3 linked regions of the Homo sapiens genome follow. The protein of the gene in region 1 purifies or fractionates together with the protein of each later gene. This does not show direct contact. Each region holds a gene or a part of one and is shown on either strand. Other genes may lie near its edges.

Region 1 (3,653 bases):
AACAATTTCAAGAAACTCAAGGAGAAAGGAAGTGTAAGCCAAATAATTTTATGTTCAGTCAAACCTGTCATTGAACTATCAAGGCTAGAGAAAAACAATATTAAACATGGAAGAACTCAGAGAACACTACTCATAAGACATTTCTTAGGACGACCTTGATGTGAAAAAGAGATGACTGGAGAAACTAACAAAAGGATTGATGATGAACATTGAATTTAATTAAGCTTAGCTCCAAACTAAAATTAAGGTGGAAATAAGAGTAGAAGAATAGTATGTAAATATTATGTATTCTGACAAGGTAGGAATATTACAACTTAAAAATTGGGAAAAGAAGGAAAAGAGAAAGGGGAAAATTAAACTTGTTGATTGCTATACAGGTGAGAGATGGGCATCAAAGAATACTTCAAAAGCTAAAACTACTTTTTTTAAAGTATACTCAAAGAAGGCCCACACTCATCCTTATCACTTCCACCCTGTTCTTCATGCAGATTTTGGATATTTAATTGTTCTAATCTGGCATTATTTTTAAATTAGCCCTGTAAATTAGCTCATTTTTAAGAGTTCTGTGAGAGTTTTAGAGTTGGTGAGCACCTTTGCATCAAACTGCCTTATTTTTTTTTATGAGTAAACTATTCATTTTTTCGAAGTCATGCAGCTAAAACTGTCGTAGGGCATTCTTTACTCATTATACTATAGTGTGTTGCCTTATAAATTCAATTTGTCGTGTCATAATCACTTCATATTCTTAATAGTGTTTTGGTTGTTTAACAGTTTTAATTGCAAATAAGTCCAGGATGGGGCAATTAAAATACCTTGAACTCTGCAAGCATCCTACAAGGATTCGACTCGTAGCTCTAGTATTGACTGGCTAAATGTCCTTGGGTGACTTAATCTTTGAGCCTCAGTTTTCTGGTGTGATACCTACTTTGAGGGATTGCTATAGAGTTTAGAAATAGTATATGACAATTGCATCTAATACGGTAACTAGAACATTGGGAGTTTTACCGAGTGGTAGGTGGTAGTATTTATTGGTTTTTTGTTTGTTGTTGTTTTTTTTAAAGACAGGCTCACTCTCGCCCAGGCTGGAGTGCAGTGGCACAATCTCAGCTCACTGCAACGTCCACCTCCCAGGTTCAAGTGATTCTCGTGCCTCAGCCACCCAAGTAGCTGGGAGTATAGGCATGCGCCACCATACCCAGCTAATTTTTGTATTTTTAATAGAGATGGGGTTTCCCCATGTTGCCTAGGCTGAGCTTGAACTCCTGGCCTCATGTGATCCTCCTATCTTGGCCTCCCAAAGTGCTGGGATTACAGGCATGAGCCACCACACCCGGCCTGGGTGAAGTTTTTTGATAGCTACAACAGTCATCATAGTAAAAGAGATTATTAAAATAGTTAATATCTAGGTATTGCTTTATAAATTTATGACATTCTAATATATACATTAAATTATTTTGTACAGGTACAAACATGTTTATTGCATGTATATATTTTTCTTTTCTGTTTTGTTAATAAATAAAAAAATTTAGTTTTTCTAGGGCTCTGTTTTAAGTACACCATATTGATTTTATTTATTTTTAATTCATTTTTGCTCTTCTATTTTTTTTCAGTTCCCAGTGGGAAAAGCTACAGAAAGATGACACAGATCCGGGGCAACTGAAAGGTATCAGAGGAAGTATTGAGACAGTTACCGGAGATACTTCTTCAGCTAATTATCAAGATACTAAAGTTAATACTAAAGAGCATTCAGTCAGGAAATAGTGTTATAAAAGAGAATTTACTTTTCAAGCTATAATGCTATTTTGATTAATGATTTTTCTTTAACTGAAGCTCTAATTTAATGGGAGGAAATAAAAGTTTGAATACCAGCTTTCTATTTTCTAAATATTGGATTATATCATGAAAATCAAGCAGTTTCTATTTCTTTAAATGCTTTTATTAAAGCAATCTAATTATGTGACAGTTTTATCTCATTATGTTTATATTTCATGAGTTTTATGGAATAAAATGTAATTTTATGTTAATCGGTTTGGGATATGCACTTTGGTGGTTATGTTTTGAAAACATTGTGCTTTTGTTTAAGAAAACTACTACTTTGGATTCATCCCAAATATTAAATAGAACTAATTTTACTTAAAAAAATGAGCAAATATTGAAAAAAAATTTTTTTTTAAAAGTCAGTGGCTGATGGTTAAAGAAAATGGTATGAAATAGTGCTGTTTTGTGTTTTTTTGGTTTTTATGTGTTCCAGATGCTTTACAAGTGACTTCTAGTTGTGTGTTTTTAGGAAAAGGGATAGATGCCAGAGTTAGAACAAATCTGTAATAATTGATTTGCACTACTTTCTATCTGTTTGACCTTGAACCCAGCTCAATTTTTCACTTGTGAGATAGGAAGAATATTTAGCATTACTGCAAAGATTCAAAGTGATGCTTAAGTAAAGCACCTAACACAGTGTCTGACACATAGTAGATTTTCAGTAAATATCAGATTCCTTCCCTTCCCTTAAGAATCAGTGCTACTTGAATGACCCTACTGTTTTAATATTTATCCATTCATCAGTTATTTTCTATGTGCAAGGCAGTGTAGGGATACAAAAAAACATTAGACATAGCTCCTTCAACAAATAGTATTGTTTACTAAGGGGTATGATTTATGTACAGGTTAAGCATTCTGAATCCAAAACTTCCAAATAGAAAATGCTCCAAAATTTTCTGAGTGCTGACATAAGCTCAGAGGAAATGCTTGTTTTCTTTGATTTTTCAGAATTTAGGGATGTTCAACTGGCATATACAAGTATTCTAACATCTGAAAAAATCCAAAACACTTCTGGTCCCAAGCATTTCAGATAAAGTATACTCAACCTGTACAGTTAACTGTTAATATAAGGCATCACGTTATGTGGGAATACTCAGAGTAGGAATTCATAGTAGAAATAAGTTTCTCTATTTTGGTGTGGTAGGGGAACACCAGGGGTTTAATGGAGAGCGTGGCCTTGAAGAGAAGAACGAGTAGGATTTAGACTTCAGAATGAGAAGAGCCAAGCAAAAATAATAGATTGAGTAAAGCCTGTCATTAATAATAGTGTTGATCACCACCACGACCATCATTATCATGACACTTTTTAAAATAAGGAAATAGGTCATTTTGACTAGAGAATACCATATGGAAATGAAAAGTCAAGTGAGAAGAGATACTTAAAACCCAATGTTAGCCTAATAAGTACTTCATCAAAGTGTTTTGTTATATAGGCCTCTCAGCGCATACTCATGTGGAACTTCCATATTACTCTAAGTTCATTCTAATTGCTGCATACCTTGCTTCATACAATCCAGCAAGAACTGACAAGAGGTTTTTTCTTAAGGTAATAATAACATACTTCTTTTCACTTTATTTTTTAAGATCCCAGGAATATTTTGAAATTTCTTAACACTTGTAAATTTCTAAGGGGAAGAGATTAGAATAAGATTGCCAAATATGTATTTAGGACTCATTCTTTAAAGGCTTTACATTAATGTCACAACCTCAAATTTGAGAAAAGGTAGGCAGTTTCATAGAAAAGAGGATATCAGGTATACCTTAGGTAATAATTCAGATTTAAAAAATACATAGGGTTTTGTTTAAAGTGTGGAGGATGGAAATAATTTTAAGAG
Region 2 (3,222 bases), on another chromosome or scaffold:
CCCCTCTTTTCCTCCAGGCTGAAGCGAGGGGAGAGGAGGAGATCCCCTGGGGGAATTCTGAGCAAGGCCCAGCCTGGGTAAGCAGGTACCTGATGGTGGGCCCCTGCGCAGCCTGCCCGTCCCCAGGGGCCCCCTCGGCTGCCTTGTCCTCCAGCTGGTGGGCACTGAGGAACTGGTTGAGGTCGCCGTTCTCCATGTAGTCAGTAATCATGCAGAGGGGGTCGTCCTGCACACACACGCCCAGCAGCCGAATGATGTTTGGGTCCTTGAGCCTCGACATGATCTTCACCTCTTTCAGGAAATCATTCCTGGAGAACAAGGAGAAGCTGAAGAGGAATGCCGAGTGGGCGGCCTGCACCTTCCCCCGCGCCCCCACCCCCCTGCCCCACCTCAGGCAGACCAGGCGTCCCCACCCCCAGCGTACATGTAAATCCCCTCCCAGAGATGCCACCCCTCTGTTGGGCTCTGCCATTGTTCTCTCTAGATGGCTCCCCACTCTTCACGGCCTCCCCTCCCTTCTTCCAGATGCCATCCCTGGTCCTCACCTGGCATTCTTGGTGGCATCTGGCCGTAAGATCTTGACAGCTACCAGCAAAGGGTGTCCCTTACGCACATTAAGGGGGAAATCAAGACTAACCAGATCTTGAGGGCTGTCGACCTCACACAGGTGCACCTGGAGAAAGAAGTTCGTTTGCTAGGCGGTCACAGGGTCAAACGGATTAACACGGTTACAAATGACTAAGGTTCCTGGCTAGGGGGATGCGCAGGCATGGCATCAGAGCACACAATAGGGCCAGACACTGGGTAGGCACCCTCCTTACCTCCCCAAACTGGCCCTCGCCAAGCTTCTCCTTGAAGCGGAGTCGAGATCGAGGGAAATCCACTCTGGGGGGCCCATCCCCGACTGCCCCTGGGGGCAGTGCAGGCACAGCATAGGTGTTGCCCCCGGTGACGCCCTGCAGGGTAACAATGTCAGCCTCGGCATAATGGGGGACGCTGTTCTGGGGAGGTGGGGGCAGAAGCGGGGCGCCTGGCTTCTCAGGCTCCATATAGTCCCCACTGTAGGCTGCAGGGGTGAGGGGAAAGAAGACAGGACGAGGCATCAGGAACAGCCCAAGAGCTATAGTTCCCCACACCTCAGCCTCCCGGAGGGCCCTGTGTCTCCCGGTTGAGTGAGAGACTGGGTCTATGCTGTATCTTCCCAGTATTCCATGCGCCAACCTCAAACCAGGAAGACACTGGCATGGGACGAGAGTTAGCTATTCCAGAGCTTTTCAAGGCAATGAATATGGTTGAGCAAAACTGTCATAAAGTCTTACTCTTTTAGGGCCTCCCTAGGGTCTCTCAAGAGACTGTGAGATAAATCTTGGCTGGAAGAAGAATTCCTCCCCAGGAATTCTCCCGCCTCAGGATGGTCCCAGCATCCAGGCACCCTCCACCTTCCAAACCCTTGTCCCGTTCACCACAGCTCCCTCCCCTTCACTTAGCTGCTCTCCCGTGGCTTTCAGCCTGGCTCCCCCTGGGGCCAAGCCCTCCCAACCCTTTCAACCCAACACACCAAGCTCAACAACAAGCAGAGACAGAGGCACACAGAGAGGAGGGAGGGTAACAGCTGCTCACAGCCCCAACACAAGTTGTCTACAGACAGGAGAGGAAGCAGAGCTGTCCCCTCTTAGCCCTGGGGAAGGGGCCACAATGAGAAGGCAACACTGAGGAGAAGAGGGGCAGATGGAAAGGGTTGGGGCATGAGCCTTCACCTCTGGGACTGCAGAGAGAGGACACATGTGAGGGAAAGGGCAAGCGCCCGGGGTGAGAGCCCTCCTCCTCGCAGCTCTAGAGAGAGTGGAGAATAAAGGAGGAGTTACTATAGTCTGGGGCCACCACAGCAACCTCCTGTCTAGCTCTGGAGAGCTGAAGAGATGGCGTGGAAGAGGAGGAGGGAGAAGAGCTGGGGACCAGTAAGCTTTCTACTCCTCAGCTCAAGGGGGGGACCTTAAAAAAGAGCAAGCAGCAGCAGAGATGAGCTAAGGGCACAAGAGCTTCCTCCTTGGGAGCTCAGGAGAGCAGAATAGGCCACAGTGGGGAGAGGAGGAAGTGCAAGGTGTGAGGGCTTTTCCCTGCCCCAGTAGAGGTATGGGGAGCCTGGCGGAGCCCAGGGGCAGAGGGGCTTACCCTGGGTGTTGGTGGGTTTGGCCCAGGCGGGTGTGGGGGGGCCCGGGCCTCGAGGGGGACGGGCGTAAGTGGCCAGAAGGAGGCGGTAGGCTGGATTGGAGAGCAGCAACGCTGTCGGGAGAAGGAGGAGGGGAAACACGGGGAAGGGATGAGACTCAAGGCTAGACAGACAGGGAGACCTTGAATAGGGCAAGACCAGGGCTGATGGGATGATTGCATTAAGAGACAGACAGGATAAAACAAGGATCTGCAGAGTGACGGACGGCTGGCTGGATAATGAATGCATGGACAGATGGGACGTATGAATAGATGGATGGATGGTAAACAGATGTTTTGTTGGATGGATGGATAACAGATGGAAAGATGGATGTGTGAATATAGATGGATAGATGGATGATGGATATGGGTGGGTGGATGGATGGATGAATAGATTTATGAATATAGATAGAAAGACAGATGATGGAAGATTGATGGATGGATGCAAGGATGTATGACTATGGATGGAAGGATGGGTGATGGAGGATAGATGAAGGAACAAACATGGTGAGTCTAATACAAAGCAAAGGGGCCAGGGAGACACAATGAGAGGGTACAACAAAGATAGAGAGATGTCTGTGGGACACAGACAAGATAGCACCACGGGGGACTATGGGTAATACATGGGGAACTCTTGAGAGAGACTACATGGTAGGGACAAAGAGTGATATAGACAGTAACCAGGGGCACAGAAAGAAGAAAACAAGTGGAAACTGGGGAAGACAGGAAAAAAAGAGAATGGGAAAGGGATACAATAAGAAAACAGCAGAGAGGACAGAGGTGCGACTGGAACAAGGCAGGTCTTACCAGAGCCATTGGGGACACAGGGAGCGGAGTGGGGCGGATTCCCACGAGGCCGGGGCTCCTGGTACGGGGGTGGCTCTCTAGGACCTGGGCGGTTGTTGATGAGGATAGTGTCCCCAGGGACAGAGAGGTGAACCGTCAGCTCCTCTTCCAACACCCTCCGTTCAGCCTTGTCATAGGGATGGGAGGCATCACCCGTGTTGCTCAGCA
Region 3 (2,995 bases), 1.7 Mb from region 1:
CCATCTCAAAGAAAAGAAAATTAGCCGGGCATGGTGGCGTGCGCCTGTAATCCCAGCTACTCGGGAGGCTGAGGCAGGAGGATCACTTGGAACCTGGCGGCAGAGGTTGCAGTGAGCCGAGATCGAGCCACTGTACTCCAGCCTGGGTGACAAGAGGGAGACTCTATCTCAAATAAAAAGTAAATAAATAGAAATGCAAAGCTTACCGTGGCTGACGAAGCCCGGCGTGCCCCGCCCAGGCACCCTTGCCACCTTGTTCTGGGCTGGGTCCACCCAGCTGTGGCCACATGGTGGAGCAGGCCAGCTGGCTCCCCTGCCACTGACCTTTGCACGTACCATTTCCTCCATGCAAGCACCTCCCCACCCTCCGCCCGCTGACTCCCTCACCAGGCTCCCAGGGAGGAAAGCGTGAGCCCCAGAATATCCATCTGCCGCTGGTCACCTCAGCAGAGTCCCCTGAGGCCCCCACGCTAGTGTCCCTCTGCCCGTTACTCTTTTTCCGTCTCCTTCGTAGCTGGCATCACACTGTGGGATTTTGATTGGCCACCTTTGCTGAGCATCTGTCTTCCCCAGTAGGCTGGGGGCCCCAAGAGGACAGGGACCCCTTGCCAAGCCCTGTCTCAGAGGCCTTCCAGGTGGGACAGATGAGCCAGAAAGCCTCAACGTGGCACTTCCAAAGCCTGCCTGCCCAGACACCACCTCACCTGCCCTCCGCTAGCCATCGGCCCCTCTTTACAGATGAGGACATTATGCCAGCACAGAGGACCATCACACTGCTGATGAGTGGCAGGAGTGGGCTGGATCACGTGGGCACAGCATGGTGCTGAAGCCCCAGGTGAAGGGGAGGTCATCATGGCCCAGTCCCACAGCTGAACCCAGGGTGAGAGCAGGGTCAGAGTCCTTTCCTCCAGAGCCTGGCAGAAAGGTGGGACAAGCCAGCTCTGCGAAGAGGCCTCTAAAAACAACCCTTATGGTTACCCGGGTGTGCCCAGGCTGCTGTGAGCCCATCTGGGCCAACAGCCACCCTCTGCAGAGGCCTGGCTTCCAAGGCGCCCCCTGCCCAGCCTCACCTCCTCTTTTGGGGCTGGTCCAGCCGCACGTCCCAGCAGCAGCAGCCGCCCTCGCAGCCGGCCAGCAGGCGGGCGTCCGGGCAGGAGGCGACAGGGCAGAGGCGCAGGGGGATAGAGGTGGTGTCCAGTGTGAGCAGCTGGCTGCCAGTGGGCAAGGGGGAACAGAGCATCAGACCCAGACCGAGGTGTCCCTGCCCCAGCAGCTGGCCACTCCCCAGCCTCACCCGAAGCATCACCTGGCCTGGAATTCGTAGTCCTGGTTGGGCACCCCGATGTCCCAGAGGATGATCCGCTTGTCATAGGAGGCCGCTGAAGAGGGGGTGGGGTAGGGGAGAAGTGGCCCTGAGATGACCCTGCTCCCTCCTGCTGGCTGCATCCCAGGCTGAGCCCACGGTCCCAAGGCCAGCCCCTCCGAGGCGGGGAGGGCGGGCCGAGGCTAGGAGACAGGAACACTCCTGGGCCCCCAATCCCTGTTTCCTCCATCTAACCTGATGCGGTGGCTCCAGCGGCCACTTCCTGTGGCTCATCCATCCCCCTTGACAGGGGCGCCACACCCGGGGGCAGGGGCATCCCCCCAGGTCACTGACAGGGGACAGAGTGGCCCAGGCTGTTGGAAAACTCCGAGGCCACAGAGCAGGCTGTGGATAAAGCCAGGGTTGAAGCGACATGGCTTCCTGCCAAAGCTAGAGTCGGAGCGGTGCAGACTGGGGCCCGGCAGGCGCCCGAGCTCACAGCCATCCCAGGGAGGGGAGCGTGGAGGCTACTGGGGCAGCAGGACAGGGGTGCTTGGGGGTCCCAGGGGTGAAGGGGAGGGGCTTACTGAAGAGATGGGTCTCGTGGGCGGGGCTGAAGCACAGGGTGGCGATGGCCTTCTTGTGGGCTCGGATGACCCCGCAGCAGAAGCCGGCACGCACGTGCAGCAGCCGGACCAGGCCCCGTAGGCCTGCAGCCGCCAGCACACTCCAGCGCTTCTTGTGGCCAGCCTGTGTGACCACCATCAGAGCGGTCCAGGCCACAGAAAAGAACTCCTGGGCGGGGGTTAGAGTAAACAGTCACTGGGGCAGAGCTATTGGTGTGAACACGCGGGTAGCCCGGGCCTGGGGGAGGGAGCCCCAGCATGAAAGAAAAAGGCCATGGGGCAGGGGGCCGAGCCTGCATCCATCCCCATGCTGCTGTTCAGGAGTCAGTCGGGCACCCTTGCCCAGCAGGGACAGGGCCTTGCACTCACCTCGCCGGGTGCCTTGTACTTGTGGAGCACGATGCCCGTCTGGCAATCAATTACGCACACAGCCTCCCCGCCGCACGTGGCCACGGTCTGGGATGTGGCCCCTGAGTGCCCGGTTTTGAGAGGTCGGATGAGCAGAGACATTTCCCATCTAGGTCCTCCCTGCAGCCTCCTCCTCCCAGCCTTGATGGCGCCTTTTAAGCTCTGTCTCCTGATCCCCCACCCATCCAGGCGGCCCTATTTCCAGCGGCCCTTGCCCCGCCTGCCCGCCACCATGTACCCTCCTCCCAGGCCGGCTCGAAGGCACAGGCCCACAGCTGGGTCTCGAGGTCCTGGGGGCTGTTGTTCTTGCTGTGGCACTGCAGGAAGTGCAGGGGCTCCAGCTTCACAGCAGGCTGTGGGGGGAGAGAAGGGTCACAGCTGCCCAGCCCCGACTCATCTGCCACCTGCTCCTTGCCACCTCAGCTCACCTGGCTGCCATCGGAGCCTGCCACAGGGCTGCCCTCCACCTGGGCCGACGGGGAGGCACACGCCCGCTTGCTGGGAGAGAGGCTGAGTGGGACGTCGTCTGGCCGTTTCAAGGCCGCCAGTCTGGCCTGTGGAGGGGGCCTTGTGACCATGGGCCTGTCTGCCTGGGGCTTCCTTCCTCCCCATCACAGGCTGGACCCCACCTCACTGCGGATGCAGGAGGCCCAGGCTG

The links.
Region 2: the proteins of ORC5 (region 1) and DDR1 purify together in Homo sapiens (co-immunoprecipitation; one large-scale study listed by IntAct). This does not show direct contact.
Region 3: the proteins of ORC5 (region 1) and LRWD1 purify together in Homo sapiens (affinity purification with mass spectrometry; 4 studies listed by BioGRID and IntAct, with this or other methods). This does not show direct contact.

What each region holds. Positions count from the first base shown.
Region 1 is NC_000007.14:104,166,483-104,170,135, reverse strand, and holds part of ORC5 (origin recognition complex subunit 5), read left to right. Parts: intron 1-1,610; coding exon 1,611-1,663; coding exon of another isoform or gene 1,664-1,761; exon of another isoform or gene 1,762-1,947; intron 1,948-3,251; coding exon 3,252-3,364; intron 3,365-3,653. UniProt on the Homo sapiens protein: Component of the origin recognition complex (ORC) that binds origins of replication. DNA-binding is ATP-dependent. The specific DNA sequences that define origins of replication have not been identified yet.
Region 2 is NC_000006.12:30,894,465-30,897,686, reverse strand, and holds part of DDR1 (epithelial discoidin domain-containing receptor 1 isoform 2 precursor), read right to left. Parts: intron 3,182-3,222; coding exon 3,016-3,181; intron 2,284-3,015; coding exon 2,173-2,283; intron 1,067-2,172; coding exon 822-1,066; intron 674-821; coding exon 546-673; intron 327-545; coding exon of another isoform or gene 309-326; coding exon 90-308; intron 1-89. UniProt on the Homo sapiens protein: Tyrosine kinase that functions as a cell surface receptor for fibrillar collagen and regulates cell attachment to the extracellular matrix, remodeling of the extracellular matrix, cell migration, differentiation, survival and cell proliferation.
Region 3 is NC_000007.14:102,467,958-102,470,952, reverse strand, and holds part of LRWD1 (leucine-rich repeat and WD repeat-containing protein 1), read right to left. Parts: intron 2,892-2,995; coding exon 2,766-2,891; intron 2,691-2,765; coding exon 2,576-2,690; intron 2,400-2,575; coding exon 2,299-2,399; intron 2,099-2,298; coding exon 1,891-2,098; intron 1,380-1,890; coding exon 1,307-1,379; intron 1,212-1,306; coding exon 1,071-1,211; intron 1-1,070. UniProt on the Homo sapiens protein: Required for G1/S transition. Recruits and stabilizes the origin recognition complex (ORC) onto chromatin during G1 to establish pre-replication complex (preRC) and to heterochromatic sites in post-replicated cells.